Linked DNA regions of Homo sapiens: regions 1, 3 and 4 are each linked to region 2. Evidence: fine-mapped expression QTL. A gene starts in region 2. Each other region holds a variant in brackets. All regions are shown on one strand. Distances are between the middles of the regions.

The links. PIP is the estimated chance that this variant, and not a neighbour inherited with it, causes the effect.
Region 1: its variant is fine-mapped to the expression of EVI5L in blood mononuclear cells (TOPMed, PIP 0.98).
Region 3: its variant is fine-mapped to the expression of EVI5L in whole blood (TOPMed, PIP above 0.99).
Region 4: its variant is fine-mapped to the expression of EVI5L in whole blood (TOPMed, PIP above 0.99). The same link has a PIP of 0.9 or more in blood mononuclear cells.

The regions. Positions count from the first base shown.
Region 1 is chr19:7,848,332-7,854,347 of GRCh38, forward strand. EVI5L (ecotropic viral integration site 5 like) reads left to right here. Exons shown (of 20, transcript NM_001159944.3): 4 at 590-814; 5 at 925-999; 6 at 1,666-1,791; 7 at 3,103-3,246; 8 at 3,350-3,439; 9 at 4,755-4,852; 10 at 4,942-5,002. Among named protein-coding and RNA genes, the nearest start is that of EVI5L, 21 kb to the left of the region's middle. The variant C/T (reference allele first, on the strand shown) is at 3,476.
Region 2 is chr19:7,827,790-7,833,805 of GRCh38, forward strand. EVI5L (ecotropic viral integration site 5 like) reads left to right here and starts at 2,429. Exons shown (of 20, transcript NM_001159944.3): 1 at 2,429-2,592. RefSeq lists a silencer at 2,286-2,525.
Region 3 is chr19:7,858,873-7,864,888 of GRCh38, forward strand. EVI5L (ecotropic viral integration site 5 like) reads left to right here. Exons shown (of 20, transcript NM_001159944.3): 14 at 1,689-1,817; 15 at 3,006-3,146; 16 at 3,250-3,405; 17 at 3,516-3,662; 18 at 4,100-4,195; 19 at 4,313-4,408; 20 at 4,552-6,016. The coding sequence ends at 4,830. Among named protein-coding and RNA genes, the nearest start is that of PRR36, 13 kb to the right of the region's middle. RefSeq lists enhancers at 2,513-3,152, 3,153-3,790, 4,885-5,593 and a silencer at 3,613-3,882. The variant GC/G (reference allele first, on the strand shown) is at 3,179.
Region 4 is chr19:7,797,100-7,803,115 of GRCh38, forward strand. The region is part of intron 1 of LOC124904628 (a long non-coding RNA gene); the gene reads left to right. Among named protein-coding and RNA genes, the nearest start is that of EVI5L, 30 kb to the right of the region's middle. The variant C/G (reference allele first, on the strand shown) is at 2,663.

The DNA.
Region 1 (6,016 bases), 21 kb after region 2:
CACGCCTGTAATCCCAGTTCGTTGGAAGGTCGAGGCAGGCAGATCACCTAAGGTCAGGAGTTCAAGACCAGCCTGGCCAACATGGCGAAACTCCGACTCTACTAAAAATACAAAAATTAGCTGGGCGTGGTGGCGTGCACCTGTAATCCCAGCTACTTGGGAGGCTGAGGCAGGAGAATCACTTGAACCTGGGAGGCAAGAGGTAGCAGTGAGCCAAGATCACGCCACTGCACTCCGGCGTGGGCAACAGAGTGAGACTCCATCTCAAAAAAAAAAAAAGTTTAAAAATTAGCCAGGCGTGGTGGTGCACAACTGTAGTCCCAGCTACTCAGGAAGCTGAGGCAGGAGGATCGCTTGAGCCCAGGAGTTCAAGGCTGCAGGGAGCTATGATCGCACCACTGCACTCCAGCCTGGGTGACAGAGGGAGACCCTGTCTCTGAAAAAAGGGGGTAAAAAAAGGATTGGGGACCATGAGTTCTGTGCCATGCTTGAGGCCTGGATGAGCCACGCCTGAGGAGCTGGGCTGGGTGGCCACGGGGAGGCTGCGCTGGGACCGAGTCCAGCCCCCGCTTCCCGCTCCCGTGGCCAGGAGCTGATCCGCAAGGGCATCCCCCACCACTTCCGGGCCATCGTGTGGCAGCTTCTGTGCAGCGCCACGGACATGCCCGTCAAGAACCAGTACTCCGAGCTGCTCAAGATGTCCTCGCCGTGCGAGAAGCTGATCCGCAGGGACATCGCCCGCACCTACCCGGAACATGAGTTCTTCAAGGGCCAGGACAGCCTGGGCCAGGAGGTCCTCTTCAACGTCATGAAGGTGAGGCCCAGGGCTCCCCGCTCCCTCGGTCCCAAAGGAAGGAGAAGTTCCCCAGTTCACCGGCTGTGCTGGACGGCGGGACCCTGCTCTCAGGACTTGTTCCCTTCTAGGCATACTCGCTGGTAGACCGGGAGGTGGGCTACTGCCAGGGAAGCGCCTTCATCGTGGGCCTGCTCCTCATGCAGGTAGGTGGCTGGGGGGTGGCTGGGCTCCTGCCAGACAACAGCCCACCCTGGGCTCGGCCCCCAAGAGATGGACAGAAGTGGCGTGTCCTCCACCCAGCGTCTTGCTAGGGGTAGATCCTCCTTCTCCATCCACACCCGTGACCTCTGCCAATCGCCAGGCCAAGGCCCAGTGAGTGGCACCTGTCTGGTTGGGTCCTGTCTGCTGTACCATCCAGGACAGAGACCGGGTTTGGAGGGATAGGCTGTCTCTCTCTGCCACATCTCAGGGTTGGACAGGAACCTCAGGCTGGGGACTTAAGCCATCCAGCGTGGTGTTTATGGGGCTTGGGGGTCTCCTCCAGAGAAATCGGGAGGCTGACAGGGAGAGAGGACGCAGCTGGGACAGGAGGTATCCTAACCAGGGGGATGCTGGCAGTGGCCAGCCCTGGGTTCAGGTCCAGCTCCCCTGTTTCCTGCCGAGTGGCCCTTGGCAGGTGACCTCAGCCTCAGGTCTTCCATCAGTAAAACAGCTTGTGAGGACACAGGGACCAACAGTGTGTCATGAGAGTCTAGGGAGCCAGGTACCGACATGGACATGGGCCCCTGTACCCCAGGGCCCTGATGAGCAGCGAGATGCCCCTCCCCGCTGCGCTGCCCTGAGCCCCCCCACCTGCCCGTCCCCCCTAGATGCCTGAGGAGGAGGCCTTCTGTGTGTTCGTGCGGCTGATGCAGGAGTACCGGCTGCGGGAGCTCTTCAAACCCAGCATGGCCGAGCTCGGGCTCTGCATCTATCAGTTCGAGTACATGCTGCAGGTGAGCAGGGCCGCAGGAGAGCAGGGCTGCAGGAGGGCAGGGCCACAGGTGGGCAGGGCCGCAAGGGAGCAGGATCGCAGAAGGGCAGGGCTGGCACCCTAGACCATACCCGGGCACCTCTTGGACTGAAAATTCCAAGCCTGTGAAATCACACCTGGACGTTCCAACTCCAAAAGGCACTCCTCTTTCCATGCAGCACTGCCCTGAAGGATGCTTGGAGGAACAGGAGAGCCACCACTGAAGGGGGGCTCCCAGGGCTGCTGAGGCAGAGGGGTGGGGCAGGCTCACATCGGACACAGCCACAGCCACCTCCCTGTCTGCTCCAGAGTGTGGTGGAAGGAGGGAGTGTTGTCTGCCTGCCTGATTACTGGAGAGCCGCAGACGTCTGTTTATAAATAGCAGCCCCCGCAGGGCCTGCTCCCGGCTGGCAGGCAGAGCCGCCAAGGCCGTTTGCGAACATACACACACCCGCATGCATACACACACACGCAGACACACACACACACACCGGCCCGCCTCAGCTGCCATGGCAGGTGGGGCTGTGCAGTCATCCCTGGATGTGACAGCCCCACTCCCTGGGCCTGGATCATGGACGGTGCTGTAGCCTTAGGGGGCCTGGTAGTGCCACAAGCAGGAGGCCTGGGCTGCAGAGAAGGCACCACCCCACCTCAGGCTGGGTAGCAGAGCCCTCCCACAGCCAAGCTTGCAAACTCAGGGCGCAGAGAGCCCCTGGCGCTGGGAGGAAGCCCGGGATCCTAACGCCTTCTCCGGCCTCAGTTTCCCCAGCCGTCTGCCACTTTCTGGCTGTCTAGAGTTCAGGCCAATCCAACACAGCTTGCACAAAGCTTTATGCTGGGGTCCAAGGGAGGTACAGTGGCTGGCAGGTCACGTAACAAGGTGGGGGGGGGGCTCCCCCCAGGGCCAGAGGCTGCCACTTGCCCATGCTCCACCTCTGGGTCTCAGGGTGTCTGTGGGGAGTGACCCAACTCCCCCAGCCTCAGACACACCCTCTCAGGCTGTCGTGAGGACCCCATGAGCTGCCACGGGCGCATCACCTACCCAGGGTGGGCCCCCAACACAGGCGGCTACAGATCTTGCCATCCCTGCCTGTCCCCCACCCCGTGCTACTCAAAGCTCGGGGGTGCTTCGGCCTCCCTCAGACAGAGTGCTGAGGGAGCACCAGGAAGGGAGCCTCAGGCTGCCCAGCGCAGGTCCAGGAAGGCTCCCTGGAGGCGGGGACACTGAGGCCCAGCACCCCCCGGTGGGAGGGCGTCCCCCTCACTGTGCCCACCCGGCCTCCCACCCCTGCAGGAGCAGCTCCCAGACCTCAACACCCACTTCCGTTCCCAAAGCTTCCACACATCCATGTATGCCTCGTCCTGGTTCCTCACACTGTTCCTGACCACCTTCCCACTCCCCGTCGCCACCCGGGTCTTTGACATCTTCATGTATGAGGTGAGGACCGATGGTGCCTGGGGAGGGAAGAGAGCCCCTTGGGGGTGGTTGGAACAGGAGCCTCCCTGCCCTCCACCTCCCACTGCCTTTGCCGCCTTTGCAGGGGCTGGAGATCGTGTTCCGAGTGGGCCTCGCCCTGCTGCAGGTGAACCAGGCAGAGCTGATGCAGCTGGACATGGAGGGGATGTCCCAGGTGGGCCGGGAGGGCCAGGGCCGGTGGGGCTGCCCC[C/T]AATCAGGGGCTTCGAGTCACAGGATGCCCTCACAAGTGACAGAGAGGGCCCGGCTTCGAGGGTGGAAGGTGGTGTGCCTGACATCCCTGATCTGTTCCCATCCACTCTGTTCCCCTGAGGTCTCCCTAAGGGACCAGAGGACCCCCTAGGCTCTGCCAGACACAGTCAGGGGCCAGCAGCCTGGCCGCAGGGAGACAGGAGGCCCAGGCTGAGCCCTGGGAGCCCCACTGCCCACCTCCTGCCCCCAACCCCGCAGATGCCCCAAAGCCTGATGGCAGATCATGACTGACTGACCATGAGGGCATCCCCACCCTGCCGCCCAGCCTGGTGAGGGCACAGGAGGGAGTTTGGGGGTCTAGGCAACCTCACGCCTTGCCCCGCCCCAGCCCGGCCTGCCTGGAGGCCCTGCTGCTGGCCAGCCTGCCTCCCACCGCTACTTCTCTGCTGTGCGGGCCCCTGCCCCCTCCCCGCGTCCTCCAGCTGGTGCTTCAGGGAAGAATGCACAAAGGCCACGGTTGTGTCCGTGAACATGGGCAGGCATTGTCCACAGCTACCAGAGGGGGCCAGCTGGGCCGGGTGCAGGAGCTGTGTCCCCCCTGGGCTTACCTTAACCCTTTGCACAGGCCCGAGGCCCCCGGCATACCCATCCTCCTTCCCCCACGAAGGTCCCCTCTGTCAGACCCCCCGACCCTCAGCCTTCACTCCCAGGAGAGCCTCCTTGGCCTGCTTTTCTTTTTTTCTTTTACCTTTTTCTTTTTTTTTTTAAGTCGGAGTTGCTCTGTGGCCCAGGCTGGAGTACAGTGGTGCAGTCCTAGCTCACTGCAGCCTCCACCTCCTGGGCTGAAGCGATCCTCCCGCCTCAGCCTCCTGAGTAGCTGGAACCAGAGGTGTACATCACCATGTCCAGCTAATTTTTTTTTTTCAGAAATGGGGTCTCACTATGTTGCCCACACTGGTCTCAAACTCCTGGGCTCAAGCTATTTATTTCTCCCACCTCAGGCTTTTAAATCATTGGGATTATATGAATGAGCCACCACATCCAGCATCTGCCAGCTTTTCTTCTGGAAACTAAGGCTTTGGCTGCAGGCAGTCCCCCATTCCCTCCCCTCACGCTCAGTCTTTCCATTGCTCCACAAACACTGAGGACACGGCGTTGAGGACATGGCGACACCCCGGGCAGACCCGTTCCTGCCCCCCTCCAGGGCAACAGGGCTCGGGCGGCCCCCGGTGGTCAGGGCCTGCATGTTGGTGACCAGGTGACCGGCTGTGTCCCCACAGTACTTCCAGAGAGTGATCCCCCACCAGTTCGACAGCTGCCCGGACAAGCTGGTCCTCAAAGCCTACCAGGTCAAGTACAACCCCAAGAAGATGAAGAGGTCGGTGCCTGCTGGGCAACCAGGGTACTGGTAAGAAGGGGGGACCCCCGAGGGCATGACAGTAACCACGGGGCCCTCCCGATCTGCAGGCTGGAGAAGGAGTACGCAGCCATGAAGAGCAAGGAGATGGAGGAGCAGATCGAGATCAAAGTGAGTCCAGGGGCCCAGGGGCGGGGACAGGGATGGGAGGCCTTTGGGGGCTGCCCTCCGTACTCTAAAGATCGGCCGCTAGGGGGCGGGCCTTCCCAGCGCACAGGCGGACCCGGCGGTCCTTGGCGGACAGGCCTCCGCCCACCTGCGCCGTCCTTCACCTGTTAGGCCAGCTGTGAGCGCCTCCCCCGCCTGACGCCGCGGTAACCAAGACAGTCAAGGTCCCTGCCCCGCTGGGCCGCCCAGCGTCATGGGGAAGCAATCAATAAACCACTGAACTAGAGTGCGGACTCTAAATGCTCTGGACAAGGATGTGCACGCGGTGGGCAAGGCTGACTTGGGCAGAGGCTCCGGGCCCAGGGTGTCGAGGGCTAAAGGCCCAGGGCAGCAGCGTGCCTTGGGGGCTGGAGGAATTCCAAGAAGGTTGCAGTGGAGGACCCCGCAAGGGGACCGCCCTCTGGGGAAAGATGGAGCACGCAGGGCCCAGACACCAGGGTGTGTAGGGCAGGGTGTGGGCACTCACCCGGGGCCCCTGGTTCCTGGGGCAACTGGCCCACCAGCCCTGCCAGGTCAGGGGGTTTCCTGAGTGTGCAAAGCTTCTCTCTCCTTCCTTGCGCATTCTTCCCTTTACACGTGATTTTAGTTATTTACTCAACAAGCATTTATTGCCGGGCGCGATGGCTCATGCATGTAATCCCAGCACTTTGGGAGGCGGAGGCAGGTGGATCACTTGAGGTCAGGAGTTCGAGACCAGCCTGGCTAATGCAGTGAAACCCCGTCTCTATTAAAAATACAAAAATTAGCTGGGTGTGGTAGCACACACCTGTAATCCTGGCTACTCGGGAGGCTGAGGCAGGAAAATCACTTGAACCCGGGAGGCGGAGGTTACAGTGAGGCAAGATTGTACCGTTGCACTCCAGCCTGGGCGACAGAGTGAGACTGTGTCTCAAAAAAAAAAAAAAAAGAAAAGAAAAGAAAAAAAACATTTATTGAGCACCTGCTGTGTGCCAAAGT
Region 2 (6,016 bases):
CACCAGCTGTTGAGTGTCTCCTAGGCATGGTCCCAGAAAAATAACTGGTCACGACCTCTTCCTAGGGAGGTTCTGGACCCCACCTTGGCCTGAACCTCCGCAGACCACTCTGTCTCCCACATTCCTGCTAGTATTCTAGGACCAGAGACCCCAGGACTTTTCTTTTCTTTCCCTTTCTTTCTTTTCTTTCCTTCCTTCCTTTCTTGCTTGCAGAGTCTCGCGCCGTCACCCAGGCAGGAGCGCAGTGGTATGATCTCTGCTTACCGCAACCTCTGCCTCCCGGGTTCAAGTGATTCCCGAGCTTCAGCCTCCTGAGTAGCTGGGATTATAGGCGTGCGCCACCACACTTGGCTAATTTTTGTTTTTGTTTTTGTTTTTTTTGAGACGGAGCCTCGCTCTGTCGCCAGGCTGGAGTAGAGTGGAGCGATCTCAGCTCATTTTAACCTCCGCCTCCAGGTTCAAGCGATTCTGCTGCCTCAGCCTCCCAAGTAGCTGGGACTACAGGCACCCGCCTCCATGCCCAGCTAATTTTTGTATTTTTAGTAGAGACGGGGTTTCACCATGTTGGCCAGGATGGTCTGGATCTCTTGACCTCGTGATCTGCCCGCCTCGGCCTCCCAAAGTGCTGGGATTACAGGCGTGAGCCACCGCGCCCGGACCCTGGGGAGGTTTATTAACAGTTCCAGAACGTTGGCAGATGCAAAATAGACAGGAAGAGGGAGGGAGAGGCAGAGAGAGCTGGACAGAGGCCGGGACCATACGTGGATGTCAGTCACTGCTTGCAAGGCCACACAGAGTCTCCTACTACAGAGAAGGTTGAGCTCTCAGACCTTAGGAAGTCCTGACGTGCCCCTCCCTGGGTCCAGCCTTCCCTTCCCCATTCTGAACTTAGGACATCTAGCTGGGCGAGGTGGCTCATGCCTGTAATCCCAGCACTTTGGGAGGCTGAAGTGGGAGAACCTGGCACCAGGAGTTTCCGACTAGCCTGAGCAACATACCAAGACCCCAGCCTCTACCAAAAAAATTAGCCGGGCATGGTGTGCACGCACCTGTAGTCCCAGCTACTGGGGAGGTTGAGGCGGGAGGATCATTGGAGTCCAAGAGTTCGAGGCTGCATTGAGCTATGTTCGCATCACTGCACTGCAAACTGGGACACAGAGCGAGACCCTGTCTCTGAAAAATAAATAAATAAAAACACACTTATGACGTCACCCTCTCTGCTATGACAAGGTCCTTCCCTGCCCCACCCCCTCCAGGGCCCATCCCTACATCTTGGGGAGGAAATAAGTCCATTTTGGTCAGTCTTGCCCGCTGTCAGTAACTGTCCCTACGAATTCCTCTCTAGCTTGAAGGATTCTCCACCTCTCCCTTCTCTGTTAAAAGAGTCACGGGCCCATTTTCATTCATTCATTCATCAAATGTTTATAAGCAGTTTCCATGCTGGGGACCTGGAAGAGACCCGACCTAGGCCCTGCATCCCGACTCCCCGAGGATCTATCAGCCTGGGAGGATGGGGAATGGGAGGGCCTATCCCTCCCCACGATCACGGCGCGAACCGAGCTTTGATGGAGAAACACGCGGCTCTGTGAGCTTTAGAGAACACATTTAACCTGGCCTGGAGTAAGACAGGGGACGGGCCTGAATCTTTTATGGGACCCGCCCCCAATATCAACCGCCCCGTCCCCAGCACAGAACTGGGCTCCTAGACGACACGGTGCCATCACGTCCCCAGTGAGTCTTCAGGATTTCTGGCCACGCCCCTTCTCAGACCCAACCCCCGAGCCCCTCCCTTGCTTGACCCCGCCCCATCTCTGGCCTAGGCCACGCCCTCCTCTTAGCCCCACCCCCATTTCATTCAACCCAGGCCTCAAGCCCCACCGCCCAGGACGCCAATGCTCCCACCAATCTCACATACCCATTGGTCAGAGAGTGTCACTTTCCCGCCCTCCTTCAGTAGCATTGGTTCCCTAGGTGTCAATCTTCTTTATGGCGCCCCCAGCAGTTGCCAGGGCCCAGGTTTGAGGGGCAGATAATAATGGACGTCTCGGGGCGTCTCGTTATTGGGCAGAAAGCCCGGCTCTGGGCGGGGCTTAGTGCCAAACGCTTGGCCGCGTCTGCCTGGTGTTCCTCAGGGCCGCAGCCTTTCCTCACGGACACACCCCCACTTTCCTTGCTATTGGTCTTATCAGGTGTTGATCAATAGGATTCCTCATTCCGATACGCAAAACTACCTGTCCTTCACCGCTTCCCTCATTTCAATTCGCTCTCTCCTCAGAGGCGGCAACCTTCTGAACGTAGCCAGGGCCCGCCTCACGGAATGGCCACGGAATGGTCAGACACCCCGTCACTCCTGGCTGGTGGGCGGGGCCAGGGCGCCTGGGGGCGGCGAATTGGCGGATGGGGCCTCGGGGGCGGGGCAGCGGCTCCTGTCAGCGGGTGAAATGGCAGCGGCGGAGCCGGCGGCGGCCGCGGTCCCGGGGGGCGGCTGAGGGGGCCGGGCCGGGGCTGCGGGGCGAACGGCGCGGCTAGGATCCGGCGGCTCAGCCCGGGGCGGCGAGGCTCGGCACGGAGATGGCGGCGCGCTCGGCGCAGGTAGGGCGGCGCGGGCCGGGCCTCCCGGGCGCCTGCTCAGGCCGGCGGCTCCGTGATGCGGCCCGCGGGGAACCGGCAGGACCGCAACTCGGGCCGTCGTGCCCCGGAACCCGCGCTGGGAGCCTCGGCATCCCCAGCCCGGGACCTTCGGAGGACCCTGGCCCCTGCCCACCCTCGTTGCCGATCCCTCCGGACCCCTCCCCAGGAGCTCCTGCAGGATCCCCCTCCCCCACTCCGTCCCCTCCCCATGAGGACCCCGCAGGCCCAGGACCCCCGTCCACCCTTTGCAGTGACCCTCAGGACTCCTCTCCGGGAACCCCCTCAGGGCTCCCCATCCCCCCACTCCGCCGATCAGCCCCTCAGAAGCGCCCCCCAAGCCCAAGAACCCCCGTCCACCTTCTGCCCTGATCTCTCAGGACCCCTCCCTTCTGGACAACACTTGCCACCCCCTCCCCGCACCCCCTCACTTCACGTCCTCCTATCTTGGGCCCAGAACTGCCCCCACCTCTCCCCAAGGAGACCAGCCTCAGGGCCTACCCGCCCCCCATGCTGACCCCACAGGACCCCTCTCTGGCCTCTGTAAGTCGGATTTCCTACCCCTGCCCACAGCCCTCAGCTCAGCCTGCTAGCCCATCTCCCACCCCAGCTGCCACATGCCCAAGGGCACCCCTAAACACCACTCCCCGGCGTCCACCCAGCACACTGTGGTAGCTCCACTGATCCTGCCCCATCTGGATCCTGGCTCCTGGATCCTGAAAAATCCACCCATGCTCAAGACCTCCCGTTGGATATTCTGAACCACCCCACTCCCCATCCAGAGCCACCCATCTTTCTGAAAACCCCAAACACACACACACACACACACACACACACACACACACACACACACACAGTCACTTAGATCCCCCAGCACACACAGAAAAACTTAAGAGCTCCAACATAGACCCCAGGCATATCTGCCCCTGCCCCCACCCACTCAACACTTCTGCACCCCTCCTCAGATCCCACCTGTCCAGGCCCTCCCAGAGTCCCCGACAGCTCCCCCAGCTCAAGCAGAGATTCCAGAGACCATGAGGTGCCTGCCGCACCCCAGGAAGCCAACTTGCCCCTCCACCAAACCAGCGCCCACACTGGAGCCTTGGAGGGTGACAGGGCCCCAGAATCCCCCAGCACCTACCCCTGTGGGAACCTGCCCCAGGCCTCTGCCAAGTTATCCATCCTTCCCTGCTGTGCCCTTTCAAAGGGAAGGACGCTCACTTTCTCTCCTACACTAGTGTCCCGAAGGAACCACTGCCCGCCCCCTGATTTATGCCACCCCCTGGCGGGAAGGGAGAGGATTCACAGCTCCTGGCTTCCGTCCTGAAGTCTGCCCCCAGCCTCCTGACCCCATCACGCCTACTGGCCTCAAATGCCAGAGCCAGCAGGGCGGTCCAGGTTGCTCCTCAGAGCTGGCCCCTGACAGCCCGAGAGTTCTTTCACCCACAACTAGTGTGTTTGGCCAAAACAAAACAGCTTCCTTCTATCTTGGCATTTGAGACCTGGGTCGGGGCCTGCCAGAAGCAGGCAGCTCTTTGTTAAGGAATATTTTCAGAAGGGAAAAATGTGCTGAAGAGGCTCGAGTGGAACATGAATGAGTTGTCTGCTTCGTTTTATTCCCCCTCGGCCGGGATGTGATTGAGCTAGAGGACCCGTGTCCCTGTGTCTTTCCGTCTTTTGTGGCTCTTCCCATCCATCCCGCCGCCCTCCCCACTCCCAGCTCTGGCCTCAGGGTCCAACCTGTAGGTTCCTCTGGGCTTCTGTGGTCAGCGGAGGGTGGTTTGGAAGGGATCGCAGGTGGCTTGGCCCTGGCACAGGGATGAGACAAGACAGGAGAGGAGATGCTGGCGCGACACTGTGGCCAGGACTGCAGGGGGCGAGGAGCCGGGCCGGTCCAGTCCCGCGCAGCCTGGGCACTGTGCGTCTGGGGTCCTTCTGACAACATAACTGTGCTCAGAAACCCTGAGATAAAAGGCCCAGGCTTCCTTGTGGATATTCACTAGCGGATTGTGGACCATCCAGGAAAAAGCTCATTGCGGCTCAGTACCTCAACTTCCCCATCGGAAACTGGGGTGCGGGGAGAGCGGCTAAATTTTTAGAACAGAACTTGGAACTGCAGGAAGGCTAGGGTGTGGCCCTGTGTGTTCCCCCAGTGCCGTGTGGAAGGGGACAGCAAGGTCTCGGAGGGGAGTCCTATGGGCTCCTGTGAATCACTGGCCACCCAGGTCCCTGCGAGGGTCTTAGTTGACACTTCATTGAAAAGTGGCCATCTTCCTAGGGCTGAGCTGTATTGCAGGGAGCCAGCTCGAATCAGAGCTGGAAGAATGGAGATGAGAGATGGTCTGCTGCAGGACTTGTGGTTATACACAGGGTCTTCCCAGGAGGACCACGGGGAACAGGGTGGGCATGAGGGGCTGTCGGATAGCCATGCTGAGGCCCCACATAGATCTCTGATGCCCCACATAGACCTCTGACACCGGGTAGGAAGAGGTTTGTTCTGTCCACTTGCTGAAGGAAGGCGTGGAGGAAAAGACTCCTGAAGGTCACGTGGTATCTCTCACGCACAGGAAACTAAACTCTACAGCCTCCCCAGGGTGGAATTTTGTGCAGAGACAGTGGGGTATGAAGGCTTCCCAGGATGACTGTGAACTCTATAGGAAACCACGAGGAGGACTTGTCAGTGATACGAACGCAGTTTTACCCGAGACTGGGCTCGTGGAGCTGCATCTTTGTTTGAGCTTTGAGGGGGCAGACGGATGAGGAGGAATGTATATTTCAATTTCCTCTTGCAGAATAGAGATGCCAGTTGTTACAGGGAAGCCCTGGGCCTGGAGTCAGATGTTGGGGTGTGAAGGAATGTAAGATGTGTACAATGTGGTCCCTGCTCTGCGTCTAAAGTCCTCTCACTGGCATGCGGCGGCCCCCGCCATGTGCTCAGCACCATGCCAAGCACCATTGACATATTATCTCATTTAATCCTCCCCAAAACTCGGAGGAACCAGGATTGCAGCACGCGCCCTTGCCATCCTGGCCTGAGGCCTGCTGCGGGGAGCATGAGACAGAATTATGTACAGCAGGCTGCAATGGGAGCCCGGAAAAAAAGCCTGATGCATCCCTGGGGTGTTGGGGAAGGCACAGCAGGGATGACGTATGGACCAGGTCACAGGCAGGCGTGGCAGGGAAGGGTGTTCCAGGCAGCAGAAGTGCTTGGACACACGCCCAAGAGGCAGGAGCAAGCGTGGTGCGCTCAGGGAGGCGTGTCCCTGTACTTCCTTTGATAGGCGTCTTACTACAAGCCCTTGTGTCCCCAGTGCCATCTGTACACTTGGCACACATGGTGGGGGGCTCCCCAGCAAAGGGGATCCCTAGTTGGGAGAACTTGGAAAGG
Region 3 (6,016 bases), 31 kb after region 2:
GATTTTCTTCTCCTGAAAGCTTTTAGAACTTAACTGCGACCTGGTGCAGTGGCTCACGCCTTAATCTCAGCACTTTGGGAGGCTGAGGCAGGTGGATCACCTGAGGTTAGGAGTTCGAGACCAGCCTGGCCAACATGATGAAGCCCCATCTCTAATAAAAATACAAAAATAAGCTGGGTATGGTGGTGCGCACCTGTAGTCCCAGCTACTCAGGAGGCTGAGGCAGGAGAATCACTTGAACCCGGGAGGTGGAGGTTGCAGTGAGCCAAGATGGCACCACCGCACTCCAGCCTGGGTGACAGAGCAAGACTCCATCTCAAAAAAAAAAAAAAAAAAAACTTAACTGCAGCTGCACTCAGCAGTTGGCCTTCCTGATCGCAGGGACCCCCAGTGGCTGCAGTCCTAAGCCCTGCAGGCCACAGGGACACATGCCCTGGAGGGGCCGGGAGCGACGCTGTAGGTCCCGCTGCCATCCTGGCCTGACCCAGCAGGGCCTGGCAGTGGGGTGTAGGTTGGAGAAACCATGGAGTGCTTGAGAAAGAAGAGCCATCCAATACAGAGGTGCCCCCTCCGCCCCCAGGCCCAGAGACTGTGGCTCAAGCCTTGGCCCAGGGATTCTAGCGGATCCACTGCTCCTGGGGAGAAGGAGAGCTTCACTGTTTCTCACTTGTCCCCATGAACCACATCCGTATGATGCTGGCGTTGTGGCCCTCAGAGTCTGTGAGCACTCTTGTCCCACCTTGCTCTGAGGCAGCATGGACATTAGGGAAACTGAGGCTGGGCTCATCCCACCCACTGCATGAGGCCGCCTTTCAGGCTCGTTAGAGAGACTCCACCAGCCACCCCTGAGCTCCAACCTTGGGGGGATGCAGAGATCGGGGAGGCCCAAGGCCACCTCCTCAGGCCCAAAGGGAGGCCACTGCAGGCAAGATGAGGTGGCCCAGAGGAGCCACATGGGGCCTGGAGGCCATCTGGGCCGAGGCAGAGCCACCGTCACACGTGGATCTCAGAGACCCACAGGAAGAGGATGGTGGCTGGGAGGGCTGAGGCAGTCCCCCAGAGAACTGTCCTGCCAGGCCACAAGGTCAGTGAGAGGGAGCCCGGCTCCCACCCCAGGGACCAGGTGTCCTTTTTCAGGTCCAGGTGGCAGTGTCCATCACTCCAGGGGCCCCCACTGGGGAACTTCTGAGAAGCCAGGGCATGGAGCAAGAGGGTGATACCCACAAACTCTTTCCTCATCCTTCCCTGATTTGAAATGGAGGGTGGGATGCAGAGGAGAGAGGTGGAAAGACAGGTGCACAGCCCCAGGCCTCTCCCCCACCCCCTGCCTCGCCCACCATGTGGCTGGAACGGTGACCACCCAGCAAGAACCCATCTCCCACCCTCACCAGTGATCCCGGAAAACCAGTCACTGGGGTCCCGCGGGGCATCCGAAGGCCAAGGCAAGTCACCTTTCAGAATGTCCCCTCTGTGCAGCCTTTCCAGGAAGGAAGCTGGACCGGGCCAGCTGCATGGATGCCAGGACCTCTAGGCCCTGAGCATCAGGGGGTCCAGCCCAGGACACCCCAAGCCTGGGCCCCTCTCCCTGCTGAAGGGCTCTGGGGAGGCGGGGAGAAGCCAGCAGGCATGGAGGCTGCCCATCCCCCAGCCATGGCCTGGGGCCCCACGCAGCTCTCTGCCTCCCCCAGGAGAACCCCCGCCTCACAGAAGACTTCGTGTCCCACCTGGAGACCGAGCTGGAGCAGTCGAGGCTGCGGGAGACGGAGACACTGGGGGCCCTTCGGGAGATGCAGGACAAGGTTCTCGACATGGAAAAGGTGCAATGGGGAGGCAGACGGGCAGGTGTCGGGGGGACCCTGGGGCACAGGAGGGGTCCTGGATAAGCTTTGGGAGTGACCCCAGGTCAGAATCCCCCACCCCCATGCACACACAACCATACATATGCACACACACAGCACAACCCCACGCGGGGCATGCCCACGCTCCTGTATGAGGCAAACTCCAGCAGCGTGGCAGCTTCTATGAGCTTCCCGGATACCTGCATCCCACCTGTGTGTGTTTCCCCCAGTACTGGGTTCCAGGAAGGAAGGGAGGAGAGAGGGGGATGGGGGAGGGGGACAGGAAGGAGAGAAAGGAAGGCCCAGGCCCATTGTGGCTGCCTCCCTACACATTCCCATGCAGACACCATCCCAGGGCTTCTGGGTTCCTCCCCAACTGCTCTCTGACTTGGCATCGACTCCACTCTCCCACGGAGCTCCCAGAGGAAGGAAAGCACCCAGGGACCCATTCACACATTCAGCAGGAGCCATTCCCCACCCCCTCGAGCCTGCACTATTTTGGGAGTCCTCCCAAATGGAGGACTGAGAGGCCATCTGCTTCCAGGCCCTCATCACCAGCCAAGAGCTGGGCTCCGCTCCCGCCTCCCTCCACTTCATAGGGAAGTGTGCCTCCAGGACATGCTGCTAGATCTGTCCCAGCCCTAGACCCAAACACGGGTCAGTGCGGACCTCATCCAGAAAGCTGGATTTGGGTCCTGGAGCACAAATCCTCCATCAATGAGCCCTGGGACACCAGGACAGGGCCAAGGCTGGCACTCAGCCTGTTCCCAGGGAGAGGGACTGCCTGGCCTGGTGTGGCCTGGCCTGGGGGCCAGAGGGCAGACAGGGTGTTTCTGCTGGGGCAGGTCCTCCACCTGATCATGTCCCTGAGGGGATGGATCTCAGACCTCGGGGAGTCAGTGTGTGCAGCGCGGCGTTTATGGGGGTTGCCCTAGGACACCCTGTGAGAGTAGGTGCTGTTACTACACCCATTTTATAGCTGAGGAACTCCAACCGGGTTCCACAGGCGAGTCCGCTCCCCGTGGGCCTTGTCAAGGGGGTCGCCCTCCCCCATCTGAGCCGCCCAAGGCAGAGCTCAGGAGGAAACGTGGCTGGGGGCGTTTGTCCTGCAGGAAGGGCCATGCGGCTGCGCTGCTCCCCCAGGCCCTGACCCCACTCTTCCCGCAGAGGAACAGCTCGCTGCCCGACGAGAACAATGTGGCGCAGCTGCAGGAGGAGCTGAAGGCGCTCAAGGTGCGGGAAGGCCAGGCGGTGGCCTCGACGCGAGAGCTTAAACTGCAGCTGCAGGAGCTCTCGGACACCTGGCAGGTGAGGGCCGGGTGGGCGCCGGCGGGCAGAGC[GC/G]CCCCTAGGGCCATCCCCTCGGGGTTCTTGGGCGGAGGCTGACCGCCGGCTTCTCGGCTTCACCCCCCAGGCCCATCTGGCCCGCGGCGGCCGCTGGAAGGAGTCCCCACGGAAGCTGGTCGTGGGCGAGCTGCAGGACGAGCTGATGAGCGTGCGTCTGCGCGAGGCCCAGGCCCTGGCCGAGGGCCGCGAGCTGCGGCAGCGCGTGGTGGAACTTGAGACGCAGGTGGACTCGGGGGGCCTGCTCGTTGGGGAAGGGGCGTGGTGTCCGTGGCCAGCCCCTGAGTTAGGCCCTGACCGCCGCCGTCCTCCGTCCTCCCTTCCTCCCTATCCCAGGACCACATCCACCGCAACCTTCTGAACCGCGTGGAGGCGGAGCGCGCGGCGCTGCAGGAGAAGCTGCAGTACCTGGCTGCACAGAACAAGGGGCTGCAGACGCAGCTCAGCGAAAGCCGCCGCAAGCAGGCCGAGGCCGAGTGCAAGGTGCAGACCCCCGCGGCCCCGCCCTGCCCGTGGCACCGCCCCCGGACGCGCCCCTACATGAGGCCCCGCCCCCAATCCGCCTCTGCCGGCGTCCTGCCTCCCGATCTGCCCCTGCCCGCGGTCCTCCCGCCCCCGCCCGCGGCCCCGCCTCCTGACCTGCTCCTGCCCGCGACCCCGCCTCCTGATCCGGCCCCGCCTCCTGACCACCCCCCCCCGCGGTCCCGCCTCCTGATCCGCCCCCGCCCGCGGCCACGCCTCCTGACCCGCCCCCGCCCGCACCTCCCTTGCCCGCGGTCCCGCCCCTGCCCGCGGTCCTGCCTCCTGACCCGCCTCCGCCCGCGGCCCCGCCTCCTCATTCGCCCCTGCCCGCGGTCCCGCCCCCTGATGCGCCGCGCCCCCTGACCCGCCCTCCTTTCCCCCCAATCCCCCGACCCCAGAGCAAGGAGGAGGTGATGGCTGTGCGACTGCGGGAGGCGGACAGCATGGCTGCGGTGGCCGAGATGCGGCAGCGCATTGCCGAGCTGGAGATCCAGGTGATCGGCGGGGCCGGGGTCGGGGGGCGGGGGCGGGGGCAGGGCCCGGGGCAGGAGCGGGGCCGGACCCCAGGCCCAGCATGGCACTGGCCCCGCGTGACCTGGCGCACCCCGCAGAGGGAGGAAGGCCGCATCCAGGGCCAGCTGAACCACTCGGACTCATCGCAGTACATCCGCGAGCTCAAGGACCAGATCGAGGAGCTGAAGGCCGAGGTGAGCCGGCGCGGGGATGCCGGGGACAGGCCTGGGTGTCGTCGGCCTGGGACGAGCCGAGCGCAGGTGCCTTGCGGAGGATGCGGCTGGGAGGGCGGGGCAGAAGGCCGGTCCACGCCTGCAGCGCCGGTCCCCCGCCCCAGGTGCGGCTGCTGAAGGGCCCGCCGCCCTTCGAGGACCCGCTGGCTTTCGATGGGCTGAGCCTGGCGCGGCACTTGGACGAGGACTCGCTGCCGTCGTCGGACGAGGAGCTACTTGGCGTAGGCGTGGGCGCTGCCCTGCAGGACGCATTGTACCCTCTGTCCCCGCGCGATGCGCGCTTCTTCCGCCGTCTGGAGCGGCCGGCCAAGGACAGCGAGGGCAGCTCAGACAGCGACGCCGATGAGCTGGCCGCGCCCTACAGCCAGGGTCTGGACAACTGAGGCCATGCCCAGCGCGCCCGGAGTCAGGAGGCCGCAGCCGCGGGGGGCGCCCGGGCAGTCCGCGTTCTGCTCCCCACCTGCCGCACTTGACAAACTACGCGCCCTCTGTGGCTCGGCCACCCCTAAAGCGAGGCCCGGCGAGGCAGCGCAGAGGGTAGGGTCCGACCTGGGCTCCTCAGGGCCCCGGGGCAGGCTCTCTATCCCCAGCAGTGTTTACCCATCTTGGTCTGTACCCCTCCGGGCCCTCTGGCGTTCCAGGGGTGCCTGGAGGGGCTGACTGCTCTCTTAACAGGAGGGCAGAGGGCAGGGGACAGACGACCCAGAGGTCCCAGCACTGAATGAGCAGGCAGCTCCCACCTCCTGGCAGGCTTCCTTCTGGGACAGGGGCGACATTGCTGGGAAGTGCTCAGGAGGTAGCCGAGGCCTGAGGAAGGAGAGCGCCAGCTCTGGGCTGGACATCAGCACCCCACAACACTCCTCGGGATGAAGTGACCCTTGACTAGCCCCTGGCCATCTCTAGGGGAGTCAGGCCGCTGGGGACAGATGGCCAGGCCGGCCTCTCCTGCCTGGCGCAGGCACCGTGGCCCCTGCAGCGGAAACCAAAGTCCCCCTACTATGTGCGGGGCGCCTGGGGACTGAGTGGCTAACGGGAAGCCTCCCTGCTTCTCTGGGGCCAGAGCAGCTTCCAGGAAGTGAAGAGACCCCTCTCCCCAGTGCCCCACATCTTTCTCTGGGAGACACTCGCGCCCCCTATCCTGGCCAGTGATGGAGGGGTATCTCTACAGGGGTCCTCGGTCTCCATCTACTTCCCTTTCTTCATGTGTTTCCAGCCCCACCCTCAGCCAGAGCCAGGCCCCCAGGCAGGAGCTTCCCAGCGAGCGGCCTCCCCTCACTTCCTCCTGGTGGTCCCGTTGTCTCTGCTGAATCAGAGCTGAGAACGGTGCCAAAATCCAACGATGCCCCCCAGGCCCCTTCCTCCCTTCCCCCGGCCCCCCGGGCCTCATGACCCTGGGGGCTGCCCCCCTCGGTGCTCCCGGAGCCTCCAGTAGAGTAGCGTCACAAGCAATCTCCCTGGCGCTTCCTGGGTGGGGACCCCTGCTCCGTCCCCGCTTCCTAGCTGCCCACTTTTCAGTGTTACGAAGCCTGGGGACCGGGGCAGGCACCCACGGGGCTCTCCACACGCCCC
Region 4 (6,016 bases), 31 kb before region 2:
TTTTAGTAGAGACGGGGTTTCACCATGTTAGCCAGGATGGTCTCGATCTCCTGACCTTGTGATCCGCCTATCTCGGCCTCCCAAAGTGCTGGGACTACAGGCGTGAGCCACCACACCCAGCCAACATGCCTTAACTTTGTATGTTTTATAACTTTCCTTACTAAAGGTACATTTTTATAACTTTCTTAATATTTCCTTTCCCTTCTTCCTACTTCATTTCTTTCCTTAGTCTTTCTTTTTGCATCTTTTTCTGATTTCTGTCTCTTCTAGTCTCTCTCTTATTTTTTTCTATTTCTCTTTCTAATGTACAATAATTAGATGAGTGTTGGTAACAATGGATATATGTACATATCTTAGTTTCCAAAATTTAGGGATGTGTTTAACATCTGTTTGCCACAACTGATTAGGTTCCAATCCTCTAGGGTTAACACCTGTTTAAGGAGGAAACGTGCCTGTCAGCTGGTAATCTGGGCATTGTAGGATAATTTGTTTAGCCAGTCTCTGGGCTAGTTGAAATTGTTTAGATAAGTTTCTCCAATTTTGGTGGAAAAATTGATGTGATTGGGTGGCTTGGTCAAGCAGTGATGTCATAACCTGAAGGTCTGCTTGATCTTGCCACAAGCCAATGGGCCAGGCAGAGATCTGTGGGCTCAAACGTGTGTAATAAAAATAGGATGTGTACCTTGGTCCGGCAATTGCTGAAGTTGAAGAAAAAGAGGCACACAGAGTGGGCTCCAGAGCGAACTTAAGGCTGTAAAAGTAATTTAATAAATAAACAGAACAGCCTCAGCTCTCCGAATGCTAGTAAATTTAGATCCAGTGATTGGATTACGTGGTCTCCACCAGACTGCCGCTTTTCCATCTTTACCAGACCCATTAGTAAAACCAGTCACAGCTCCCGCCGGGCGCGGTGGCTCATGCAGGTAATCCCAGCACTTTGGGAGGCCGAGGCGGGCGGATAACGAGGTCAGGAGATTGAGAACACGGTGAAACCCCGTCTCTACTAAAAATACAAAAAAATTAGCAGGGCGTGGTGGCAGGCGCCTGTAGTCCCAGCTACTGGGGAGGCTGAGGCAGGAGAATGGCGTGAACCGGGAAGGCGGAGCTTGCAGTGAGCCGAGATAGCGCCACTGCACTCCAGTCTGGGCGACACAGCGAGACTCCGTTTCAAAAAACAAAAACAAAACAAAAAAACCAGTCACAGCTCCTTCCAAAGGGGCATCACGAGTAATTTTCGGAGGAACCCATGTAGTTAATTTTAAGAACTGGAAAGTTTTATTTTTAGGATAATGATTATCAATACATCCAACAAATTCTGCTAAATAAACTTGCCATGTAACTGAATTAATAAATGCCTGTTTAACCTGATTTTTATTTATAGGAACTATAATCTTATTAGGTTCAGTGCCACAAAGTTTAACAACTCGCATACGAGCCTGTCCAATTAAAATTGCCATCTGATCTAAATATACTGTAAGTGTTTTTATGGTATTACGTGGCAAAAAGGACTATTCAACTAAATCATTATTTTGAACAATAATCCCCGTTGGGGAGTGTGAAGTAGGGAAAACAATGAATTGTAAAGGCAAGTCTGGGTCAATCCTACTGACCTGGGCTTGCGGAATTTTTTCTTCAATTACTCTTAACTCTTTCATGGCCTCGGGTGTTAGTTCTCTTTTACTGTGTAAACTGGAGTCTCCCCTCAGTATTGAGAAGAGATTAGACATAGCATAAGTAGGAATTCCTAAGGTGGGCCGAATCCAATTAATATCGCCTAACAATTTTTGAAAATCATTTAAGGTTTATTTGGTTTTTGTTTTTGTTTTTGAGACGGAATCTTGCTCTGTCCCCCAGGCTGGAGGGCAGTGGCTTGATCTCGGCTCACTGCAAGCTCCGCCTCCCGGGTTCACGCCATTCTCCCGCCTCAGCCTCCCGAGTAGCTGGGACTACAGGCGCGCAGCCACCACGCCCGGCTAATTTTTTGTATTTTTAGTAGAGGCGGGGTTTCACTGTGTTAGCCAGGATGGTCTCGATCTCCTGACCTTGTGATCCGCCCGCCTCAGCCTCCCAAAGTGCTGGGATTACAGGCGTGAGCCACTGCCCCCCCGCCCATTTAAGGTTTTTAAAGAAGCTTTTCTAATTTGAACCTTTTGAGGCTTAATGCTCTATCCTGTACTTGCATTCCCAAATACTGAAAAGGAGTGGTTGTTTGAATTTTGTCAGATGCTTTAAGCAATCCAGCGTTTGTAATTGCCTTTTGCAAAGATGAATAACATTGAATAAGTTGGCCTCTATTTTTTGCTGCACACATCTGGAAATTGATCTCTAACAGGCTGGATAGTTCTGCCTACAAAAGTCTGACAAATTGTGAGACTGTTTAACATACCCCGAGGTAAAACCTTCCAATGATATCTGGCTGCAGGTTCTTTATTATTAACTGCAGGGATGGTAAAGCCAAATTTTTCGAAATCTGCCTCTGCTAAAGGAATTGTAAAAAAAAAAAAAAAAAAAAAAAAAAAAAAAAAGCAATCTTTTAAATCTATAATAACAAGCGGCCAGTCTTTAGGGATTATAATGGGGGATGGGAGCCCTGGTTGTAAAGCTCCCATCGGTTGAATTACAGCGTTGACCGCTAGTAAATCGGTCGGCATGCGCCATCTGC[C/G]GGACTTTTTCTTAATTACAAATACTGGGGAATTCCAAGGAGAAAAAGTGGGTGTGAAACATGTCCTTTTTCTAGTAATTCTTTAACTATTTCATAAAGCGCCCCCAATTTTTCCTTAGGGATCGGCCACTGTTCGACCCAGACAGGGCGCTGGGTCATCCATTTTTAAGGGAAATTGCTCCTTCCCCGTAATGAACGGCAGGGCGAGCCTGAATTTTAATTAACTGGTGGCTGAGCCTGAATCATCCCTTTACCGTAATTAACGGCAGGTTTTGCAACAATGGGCGCGGCGAACCGCGTCTCAGGCTTCCATGCCCGCAATTCACAAGGCTTAGGCGCGGGTGGCCATTCCGGAGCTTCCCCTGAGGGTGCGGTAGGTTGGACGGTCTCTTTCATATGTGTTTGGTTAGCATATATAACCTCCTGATTCTCCGCCTTTTTTAAACTGGAGCTAGATGGTGCACTCTCCTGACCGTCAAACTCGTCTCCTTCATTTCCAAATGCTGGTTCCTCCTCAGTCTGCAAAGGCTCACGTGCTGTTTTCACTGCCGCCCACACAGACCAAGCGGAGAAAGGAATTTCTTGACCCTCTTTTTGTGCCTGTTTGAAGTCAGCCCTTATTTTTTCCCAGTCTTTCAAATCCATGGAGCTGTGTTCCGGGAACCAAGGAGAATATTGTTCTATTAGCTGAAACAGGGACAGAAGATTTTGGGTGCTCACGTTTAACCACAGTGGCACAATAACTGCCGCACCAAACTCAAATAATTATTATGTCTACTCTCAGCCTGACCCACAATTTCCTGTTGTTACCCTGGAATTCTCCGAGCGCCCCGCTTACCTGCAGAGCTTAAAAGTCTTTTCGTTGGCCGGCGCGGTGGCTCACGCCTGTAATCCCAGCACTTTGGGAGGCCGAGGCGGGCGGATCACGAGGTCAGGAGATCAAGACCATCATAGCTAACATGGTGAAACCCCGTCTCTACTAAAAATACAAAAAGTTAGCCGGGCGTGGAGGCGGGCGCCTGTAGTCCCAGCTACTTGGGAGCTGAGGCAGGAGAAGGGCGTGAACCCGGGAGGCGGAGCTTGCAGTGAGCCGACATCGAGCCACTGCACTCCAGCCTGGGTGACAGAGCGAGACTCCGTCTCAAAAATAAATAAATAAATAAATAAGTAAAAATTAAAAAAAAACTTTTCGTCCTTGGGAGTTCTCCATCTGTCGGTCCTTCATTTTCGACGCTCCTGCATTCCTTCACCCGGTTGTTTTGGAGATACCACGTTGGGCGCCAGATGGTGGGGTCCAGCCTCAACACTACCCGTGGGTACCTGAAGTCCGGTGGCGACAAAGGAATGAGAAAAGACAAGTTAAGATTTTAAAGCAGGCCCAGGGGGCCAGTTGCTAGAGTGAAGGCTGCAAAACGCCCAGAGTTCTGGTTGCCTGACGATTTATTGAGCACAATCTTTTGATCTAAGAAGCAGCTGGGATGAAACGGTGAAGGAGCGGGAGCGTACGTCATTGGAAAGATGTAGAGCAGTGGCGGTTATATGAATTTCCTTTAAGCTAAAAGCATATGTCTAACTGCTAAGACAGTCTTTAACTTATCGGGCTGCAGCTGGTGGGGGCCGGTTTTACAAGGAGCTAGGATGTCTGGTCACGTTCCAACACTTCAAGGGAGTGTGTCAGCCCAGAGCATTCTGTGTAAAGCCGCAGAGCAGGTCATGCCCTCTGGCCTGGGAACTTAATGGCTTGCGGAGATGATTCTCCTAAGGGCCCCCTACAGTTTTCCATAGGTGTCCTACACAGGGGTGACTGACTAAACTGGCACCCCATAAACCTTTCCACCAGCACTTTTGTTTCAGGCTGCTGGCTCTGGTGAGCTCTTCTTTTTTGTTTTGTTTTATTTATTTATTTATTTATTTATTTACTTTATTTTTTTTGAGACACAGTCTCGCTGTCTCCCAGGCTGGAGTGCAGTGGCGTGATCTCAGCTCACTGCAAGCTCCACCTCCCAGGTTCAGGCCATTCTCCTGCCTCAGCCTCCGGAACAGCTGGGACTACAGGTGCCCACCAGCACGCCCAGCTAATTTTTTGTATTTTTAGTAGAGACGGGGTTTCACCATGTTAGCCAGGATGGTCTTGATCTCCTGACCTCGTGATCCACCCGCCTCAGCCTCCCAAAGTGCTGGGATTACAGGTGTGAGCCACCGCGCCTGGCCTCATTTATTTGTTTTTTAGATGGAGTCTCACTCTGTCACCCAGGCTGGAGTGCAGTGGCACAATCTCAGCTCACTGCATCCTCCACCTCCCAGGTTCAAGGGATTCTCGTGCCTCAGCCTCCCTGGTAGCTGGGATTATAGGTGTGTGTCACCATGCCCGGCTAGTTTTGTATTTAAAAATAGGCAGGATTAAAAAGTAGGTGGGGTTGATCCAACCATTATCTACATGATTGAACCCCACCTTCAGCCCCTTCCCCTTCCTGGAGGTCAGGTGGCTAAAAATCCCAACCTTGGTGGTTGGTGTTTCTGGCATGACCAGCCCCCATCCTGAGTCACCTCCTTGGTATAAGCTCAGTTATGGTCCAGGGCCCCCATGAATAATAAAGACGCTTCTTTTTTTTTTTTATTTCCATAGGTTTGGGGGAACATGTATTTGGTTACATGATTAAATTCCTTAGTGGTGATTCATGAGAGTTTGGTGCACCCATCTCCCAAGCAGTATACACTGCACCTAATTTGTAGTATTCTATCCGTCAGCTTTCCACCCTTTCCCCTTGAGCCCCCAAAATCCACTGTGTCATTCTTATGCCTTTGCATCCTCATAGCTTAGCTCCCACTTATGAGTGAGAGTATACAATGTTTGGTTTTCCATTCCTGAGTTCCTTCACTTAGAATAATGGTCTCCAGTCCCATCCAGGTTGCTGCAAATCCCATTAATTCATTCCGTTTCATGGCTGAGTAGTATTCCATTTTATATGTATGCCACAGTTTCTTCACCCATTCGTTGACTGATGGAAATTTAGGTTTGTTCCACGTTTTTGCACTTGCGAATTGTGCTGCTATAAACATGTGTGAACAAGTATCTTTTTTGTATCATGACTTCTTTTCCTCTGGATAGATACCCAGTAGTGGGATTGCTGGCTCAAATGGTAGTTTTACTTTTAGTTCTTTAAGGAATCTCCACGCTGTTTTCCATAGTGGTTGTACTAGTTTACATTCCCACCAGCAGTGTAAAAGTGTTCCCTGTTTGCCACATCCACACCAACATCTATTATTTTTTGAGTCTTTGATTATGGCCATTCTTGCAGGAGTAAGGTGGTATCACATTGTGGTTTTGATTTGCATCTCCCTGATCATTAGTGA